2 linked regions of the Homo sapiens genome follow. The protein of the gene in region 1 purifies or fractionates together with the protein of each later gene. This does not show direct contact. Each region holds a gene or a part of one and is shown in the gene's direction. Other genes may lie near its edges. The genes, in order: DDX19A and NUP88.

What was found.
Region 2: the proteins of DDX19A (region 1) and NUP88 purify together in Homo sapiens (affinity purification with mass spectrometry; 3 studies listed by BioGRID and IntAct, with this or other methods). This does not show direct contact.

Annotation. Positions count from the first base shown.
Region 1 is NC_000016.10:70,367,223-70,371,040, forward strand, and holds part of DDX19A (ATP-dependent RNA helicase DDX19A), read left to right. Parts: intron 1-3,000; coding exon 3,001-3,163; intron 3,164-3,818. UniProt on the Homo sapiens protein: ATP-dependent RNA helicase involved in mRNA export from the nucleus.
Region 2 is NC_000017.11:5,392,023-5,395,840, reverse strand, and holds part of NUP88 (nuclear pore complex protein Nup88), read left to right. Parts: intron 1-859; coding exon 860-950; intron 951-3,818. UniProt on the Homo sapiens protein: Component of nuclear pore complex.

The DNA of each region.
Region 1 (3,818 bases):
TCGAGACCATCCTGACTAACACGGTGAAACCCCATCTCTACTAAAAGTACAAAAAATTAGCGCGGCGTGGTGGCGGGCGCTTGTAATCCCAGCTACTCGGGAGGCTGAGGCAGGAGAATGGTGTGAACCCGGGAGGCAGAGCTTGCAGTGAGCCGAGATCACACCACGGCACTCCAGCCTGGCAACAGAGAGAGACTCCGTCTCAAAAAAAAAAAAAGTTCAACAAGATAGTCATAACATTCACACACATAGTTTTCCAGTCTCAAACAACAAATACTTAGAAAATGGAAGCATAGATCTCATTGATAATAGAAAAAATAAATATTTAAGATCTCTGAAGAAAATGTCAAAATGATTTTAGAATAAAAGAGACACCGGAGCACGGTGGCTCATGCCTGTAATCCCAGCACTTTGGCAGGCCGAGACAGGCGGATCACCTGAGGTCGGGAGTTGGAGACCAGCCTGACCAACATGGAGAAACCTCGTCTCTACTAAAAATACAAAATTAACTGGGTGTGGTGGTGCATGCCTGTAATCCCAGCTACTCGGGAGGCTGAGGCAACAGAATCACTTGAAGCTGGGAGGCGGAGATTGCAGTGAGCTGAGATCGTGCCCCTGCACTCCAGCCTGGGTGAGAGAGCGAGACTCCGTCTCAAAAAAAAAAAAAAAGAGGCCAGGCTTAGTGGCTCACGCCTGTAATCCCAACACCTTTGGAGGCCAAGGTAGAAGGATTGCTTCAGCCCAGGAGTTTGAGACCAGCCTGGGCAACGTCGGGAGACCCCATTTCTAAAACACTTAAAAAAAATTAGCTGGATGTGGTGGCACACACCTGTAGTCTCAGCTACTCGGAAGACTGAGGTGGGAGGATCCCTTGAGCCCAGGAGTTAGAGGCTGCAGTCAGCTGTGATCACGCCACTGCACTTAGCATGGGTCATAAAGCAACACTCTGTCTCAAAACAAGGAAACATACAATGCAATGATACAGTGATAACAGTAATATATCTCTCAAATATAATCCACGTTCTCCTATCTCCACTTGTGCCAAAAGTATTCTTTTTTTTTTTGAGACCGAGTCTATCTAGCTCTGTCACCCAGGCTGGAGTGCAATGGTGTGATCTAGGCTCACTGCAACCTCCGCCTCCTGGGTTCAAGCAATTCTCCTGCCCCAGCCTCCAGAGTAGCTGGGATTACCAGCGCCCGCCATCATGCCCAGCTAATTTTTGTATTTTTGGTACAGGGGGTTTCACCATGTTGCCCAGGCTTGTCTTGAACTGCTGACCACAGGTGATCCAACTGCCATGGCCTCCCAAAGTACTGGGATTACAGGCATGAGCCACTGCGCCTGACGCCAAAAAATACTCTTTTTTTTTTTTTTTAGACGGTCTCACTATCTTGCCCAGGCTGGACTCAAACTCCTGGGCTCAAGCAATTCTCCTACCTCAACCTCCCAAGTAGGTGGGACTCCAGGCACATGGCACTGTGCCCAGCTCATCTTTATTGCTTTTTGTTTTGTTAAATCCAAGAGCCAGTCAAGTTTTGCTTGTTGCATTTAGTTGTCATGTCTCTTAAGACTCCTAAATCTAGAAGAATTTCCTCACCTTTATTTTATTGCCTCTCATTACAATGACATCTTGAAGCATCCAGGGTAGTCTTTTCTTTTTGAGATGTAGTTTTGCTTTTGTTGCCCAGGCTGGAGTGCAGTGGTGCAATCTCGGTTCACCACAACCTCTGCCTCCCGGGTTCTAGCAATTCTCCTGCCTCAGCCTTCCCGGGTAGCTGGGATTACAGGCATGTGCCACCACACCTGGCTAATTTTGTATTTTTAGTAGAGACAGGGTTTCTCCATATTAGTCAGGCTAGTCTCAAACTTCTGACCTCAGGTGATCCGCCCGCCTCGGCCTCCCAAAGTGCTGGGATTACAGGCGTGAACCACCGTGCCCGGCCAATCTGGTTTTTTTTTTTTTTTTTTTTTTTTTGAAACGGAATCTCGCCTCTTGCCCAGGCTGGAGTGCAATGGCATGATCTTGGCTCACTGCAGCCTCTGCCTCCCGGGTTCAAGCGATTCTCCTCCCTCGGCTTCCTGAGTAGCTGAGATTACATGCACATGCCACCACGCCCAGCTAATTTTTGTATTTTTAGCAGAGACGGGGTTTCACCATGTTGGTCAGGCTTGTGTTGAACTCCTGACCTCGCGATCGGCCCACCTCGGCCTCCCGAAGTGCTGGGATTACAGGCATGAGCCACCGCGCCTGGCCCCCAGGGTAGTCTTTTACTCCTAGGCTCAAGTGATCCTTCACTTGATCTCCCAAATTGCTGTGGTTATAGGCGTGAGCCACCGTATCTTGCCCCAGGTTAAATATTTTTGTGGTATAAATTTTCTTTTTTTTTTCTTTTCTTCTTTTTTTTTTTTTTTGGAGACAAGGTCTTGCTCCGTCACCCAGGCTGGAGTGCAATGGTGCAATCTTGGCTCACCAGCCTCGACCTCTCAGGTTTAAGCGATTCTCCTGCCTCAGCTCCCTCAAGTAGCTGGGACTTACAGGCCTACACCACCATGCCTAGCTAAATTTTTTGTAGAGACAGGTTTGGCCATGTTCCCCAGGCTGGTCTCGAACTCCTGAGTTCAAGCGATCCACGTGCCTCGTCCTCCCAAAGTGCTAGGAGTACAGGTGTGAGCCACCATGCCCAGCCAGGTACAAATATTTTCGTAAGATTACAAGCCAGGTGACATTGTTACTTCCTGTTGCACTATATCGGGTTTACAATTTTAAGAAATTTAGCTTTTAGCTGCTAAGTTTCAGGTACAGTCTTCCAGATCAAAAATATCTTCAGCTGAGCGTGGTGCCTCACACCTGTACTCCCAGCCCTTTGGGAAGCCAAGGCAGGATAATGACTTGAGCCCAGGACTTTTTAGATCACCCTGAGTGACAGCAAGACTGTGTCTCAAAAAGAAAAAATATATACTCAAATACTTTCATTTCTCAATTGTTTTTTTTCTTCCAGACTCGCAAAACAGCTAGTTGGCTGGCAGCAGAGCTCTCAAAAGAAGGCCACCAGGTGGCTCTGCTGAGTGGGGAGATGATGGTGGAGCAGAGGGCTGCGGTGATTGAGCGCTTCCGAGAGGGCAAAGAGAAGGTTTTGGTGACCACCAACGTGTGTGCCCGCGGTGAGCAGAGGACGTGTCCCACCTGGTCTGCCAGGCTCGGGGTCCCAGGCCCAATTAGAGCCAGAAATCCTTGTATACAGGGAAGTCGGATGGTCTCAGGGAGATGGGTGGGGTTGGTGACACTATTCCTTTCTAGGAGAGACTGTTTGGATTTCCCTGAGGTGGTAAGAACTCACACATGCCAGGTGCGGTGGCTCATGCCTGCAATCCCAAGGCAGGAAAATTGCTTGAACCCTGGAGACAGAGGTTGCAGTGAGCCGAGAATGTGCTATAGCACTCCATCCTGGGTGACAGAGTGAGACTCTGTCTCCAAAAAAAAAAAGGAAGAGGGCAGGCCCAGTGGCTCACGCCTGTAATCCCAGCACTTTGGGAGGCCGAGGTGGGCGAATCACCTGAGGTCAGGAATTCGAGACCAGCCTGACCAATATGGTGAAACCCCATCTCTACTAAAAATACAAAAATTAGCCGGGCGTGGTGGCATGCGCCTGTAATCCCAGCTACTCAGGAGGCTGAGACAGGAGAATCGCTTGAACCCGGGAGGTGGAGGTTACGGTGAGTGAGATCGCGCCATTGCACTCCAGCCTGGGCAACAAGAGCGAAACTCCGTCTCAAAAATAAAAAAAGAAAGAAAGAAAAGGAACTCCCGCAGAAACCA
Region 2 (3,818 bases), on another chromosome or scaffold:
TTACGTTTCAAAAAGCTGTTACAGGCCAGGCGTGGTGGTTCACACCTGTAATCCCAGCACTTTGGGAGGCTGAGGCAGGTAGATCACCTGAGTTCAGGAGTTCGAGACCAGTCTGGCCAATACCGTGAAACCCTGTCTACTACTAAAACCTGGGCGTGGTGGCGTCCACCTGTAGTCCCAGCTACTCAGGAGGCTGACGCAGGAGAATCACTTAAACCCAGAAGCCGGAGGTTGCATTGAGCAGAGATTGGGCCACTGCGCTCCAGCCTGGGCAACAGAGGGAGACTCCATCCAAAAAAAAATAAAGCTGTTATAAATTGAGTATCCCTACTCTGAAAAATTTGAAATCCAAAACTTTTCTTTTTTCCATCCTTGAACCTGAGTGAGCTACAAAAGTTTTTGAGTGCTGTCATGACAACAGAAATGCTCATTGGAGCATTTAGGATTTTAGATTTTCAGATAAGAGATGTTCAACTACTAAGTATAATGCACATATTCCAAAATCCAAAAAAAAAATGTGAAATCCAAAACACTTCTGATCCCAAGCATTTTGGATAAAGGATACTCAACCTTTATGAAAATAAAATCAGTGTGGGTAAGCAGCACCCTAGAAGAGAATGATTTCACTGTTCTTAGTGAAACATTTTTGCATTCAGAGACATTACGAAGGAAAATCCTACTTCTTGGGGCGGAAATCTAGACCCCCTGGGAAAGCGTATGCCTATGTCAGAAAAGCATAGTACTTGAGAAGCAATGTTTTCAGACAAGAACCTCACTGCATTTAACCCAATATCATTAGCATTTTAATTTGGAGACTTGTCTAAGCATCATTTCATTTATGTAATGTCTTCCATGGTAGATGAAGAAGATAAGGATAGTTTACAGGAACTCTCTACAGAACAGAAATGCTTTGTTGAACACATCCTTTGTACGAAGCCATTGCCCTGCAGGTAAGGACTCTCCCTCCCTTGTATATCAGAAAACAATTGTTCATTTCAGCAGTTCAGATACGTTTGTATCCGTTACACTCACATCCACAGTATTCACTGCTGAGTCATTTGAAAGTTGCAGACGTGATACTTCTCCCCTAAGAGTGTCCTGCTCATCAGAAGCTTTCTCCTCTCCAGGGCCACTCGACATACTGTTTCCTGACTGGAAGGTCCTTCCCCAGCCCCAGCCCCAGCCCCAGCTTGCTGTCTTCTCTTGGCTAACTCCTACCCTTCTTTCTGATCTTAATGTCACTTCTTCACAGAGAACACCCTTGACTCCCCAGTCTAACTTGGGGCTCTCCTATTCTCTTATCCATTGTAGCACATATTACACTATTTATATTTGCATTTTTTTAATGTCTGTCGCCACTACCGGAATGTATATGTTTCATGAGAGCAGAGACTGTGTCTGCCCTTCACTGCATTGCTGTGTTTATTTGATGTGGTTGCCCATGTCTCCTCTTTGAAACACATTCTCCTTGGCATCCTTGACGTCTGTCCCTCCAGGTTCTCCTTCAGTCCCGCCAGCAGCCCTTTTCTCAAGTTTCCTTCTTGGGCGGGTTCCTCTGCCTCTACTCACTGCTTATAAGTAATGCTCACAACTCTTTCCTTGGGTCTTCTCTATTCTTTCTAGGTCCTTTCCTGAGTAACTTCTGCCGTAATCATGGCTTCAGTGCTGACAGTTCCCGCATCCATATCGCCCTAGCCCAGACCACTCTGAACTCCAGATTCACATACCCAGCTGCCTACTGGGCTCCTCCACTTGGATATCCTATAGGAACATAAAACTCCAGATGTCCCCTTAACTCATCTTCTGTCTTTCCAAATCTGCTCTCTCTCCTGTGTCCCATTTTTCTGAAGGGTGCCATATCACCCCAGTTATCCCCAGTAGAAACCTGGAAGGTATTCTAGATACCTCCCTTTATTCTGTTCATCAATTACTAGATATCTCATAAGCACTCTGTTAGACATGGAGTATACACAGACATGAGACAAATAGCATACACTAAGAAATAGACATAATCTAGGTTTGGCAATACAGAGGACCACAGGGAAAACGCTTGGTGGGGAATGAGAAGGATAGCAAACTGTACCAGCTTGAAAAGTGAACAGTGAAACCAGGCACTGTGGCTTACGCCTATAATCCCAGCATTTTGGGAGATCGAGGTGGGTGGATCACACGGTCAGGAGTGCAAGACCAGCCTGGCCAAGATGGTGAAACCCCATCTCTGCTAAAAACTACAAAAATTAGCCAGGCATGGTGGCAGACACCTGCAATCCCAGCTACTCGGGAGGCTGAGGCAGGAGAATTGCTTGAACCCGGGCAGCACAGGTTGCAGTGAGCTGAGATCATGCCACTGCACTCCAGTCTGGGTGACAGAGTGAGACTCCATCTCAAAAAAAAAAAAAAAAAAAGAAAAGTGAACAAGGAAAATACATAATAAAATCCCATGTAGGCTGGGCATGGTGGCTTACACCTATAATCCCAGCACTTTGTCAGGTGAGGCAGGAGGATCACTTGAGGCCAGGAGTTTGAGACCAGCCTGGGCAACATAGTGAGACCCTTTACAAAAAAATTTAAAAATTAGCTAGGTGAGGCCAGGCGTGGTGGCTCACGCCTGTAATCCCAGCACTTTGGGAGGCTGAGGCAGGCGAATTACTAGGTCAGGAGTTCGAGACCAGCCTGGCCAACGTGGTGAAACCCCGTCTCTACTAAAATACAAAAAAAAAATTAGCTGGGTGTAGTGGCGGGCACCTGTAATCCCAGCTACTCAGGAGGCTGAGGCAGGAGAATCGTATGACCCTGGGAGGTGGAGGCTGCAGTGAGCCAAGATCATGTCACTGCACTCCAGCCTGGGCAACAGAGTGAGACTCCGTCTCAAACAAAAAAAAAAATTAGCCACTGTGGTAGCATGTACCTGTGGTCCCAGCTACTCAGGAGGCTGAGAAGGAAGGATTGTTTGAGCCCACGAGGTCAAGGCTGCAGTGAGTCGTGATCGCACTATTGCACTCCAGCCTCGGCAACAGAGTGAGACCCTATCTCAAAAAAACCCCAAAATCCCATTTATATCAATTTCAGAAACAGGTAAAATTAAACAGTCTTGCCTAGGAGTGAATACATAGATAGGAAAACTATAAAGCAAAGCAAAGACATGATATTATGAATGTCAGAGTAGCGGCTACTTCTCTGGGGAGTGAAAGGCTATGACCAGGGAAGGTCGCATGGGAACCCTGAGGCCCCCTGCAGTGTCCTGATTCTTGACCTGGATACTGGTTACATAGTGTATAGCCCAGTAGTGTGTAGATTTCACACTGATAATAAAAAGTTAAAGTTTACAACCTTCCAGATATCGTCTCCATGTCTTGTCCAAAAAGGTAAATGGGAGCTATGGAAGGGGAACTAGTGTTTTCAACTGCTGTTTAAAGACTGCTGGTTCTAAAGGGATGGCGAGAAAGAATAGGTTAAGGGGAACTGGACATTATATTGAAATGAGAGTATTTTAAATGGAAGAGACATGAGTTTGCAAGCTGAGGGGAAGTAGATAATAGGGAGATTTTGAAACGACACAGTTGATGGTACAATTTTCAGAAGGTGTGAGAGGAGGCGGCATCCACATTCGGGGGCAGATGTGTGTTGTAGGCATGCAGGTGGGATGGGCATGGGAGCCGCTAGGAGAGCATGTTGGCAGAATGACAGTTCCCATCTGAGGTCTCAGTTTCCAGTGTCTTCACTGAAGTGGGAAGGAAGACTGAGAGAGATACACGCTGTGCGTGCCAAGTGATTTCCTGTGACATTGACATTGGGCCTCATTGAGAGAGACTCGGTAG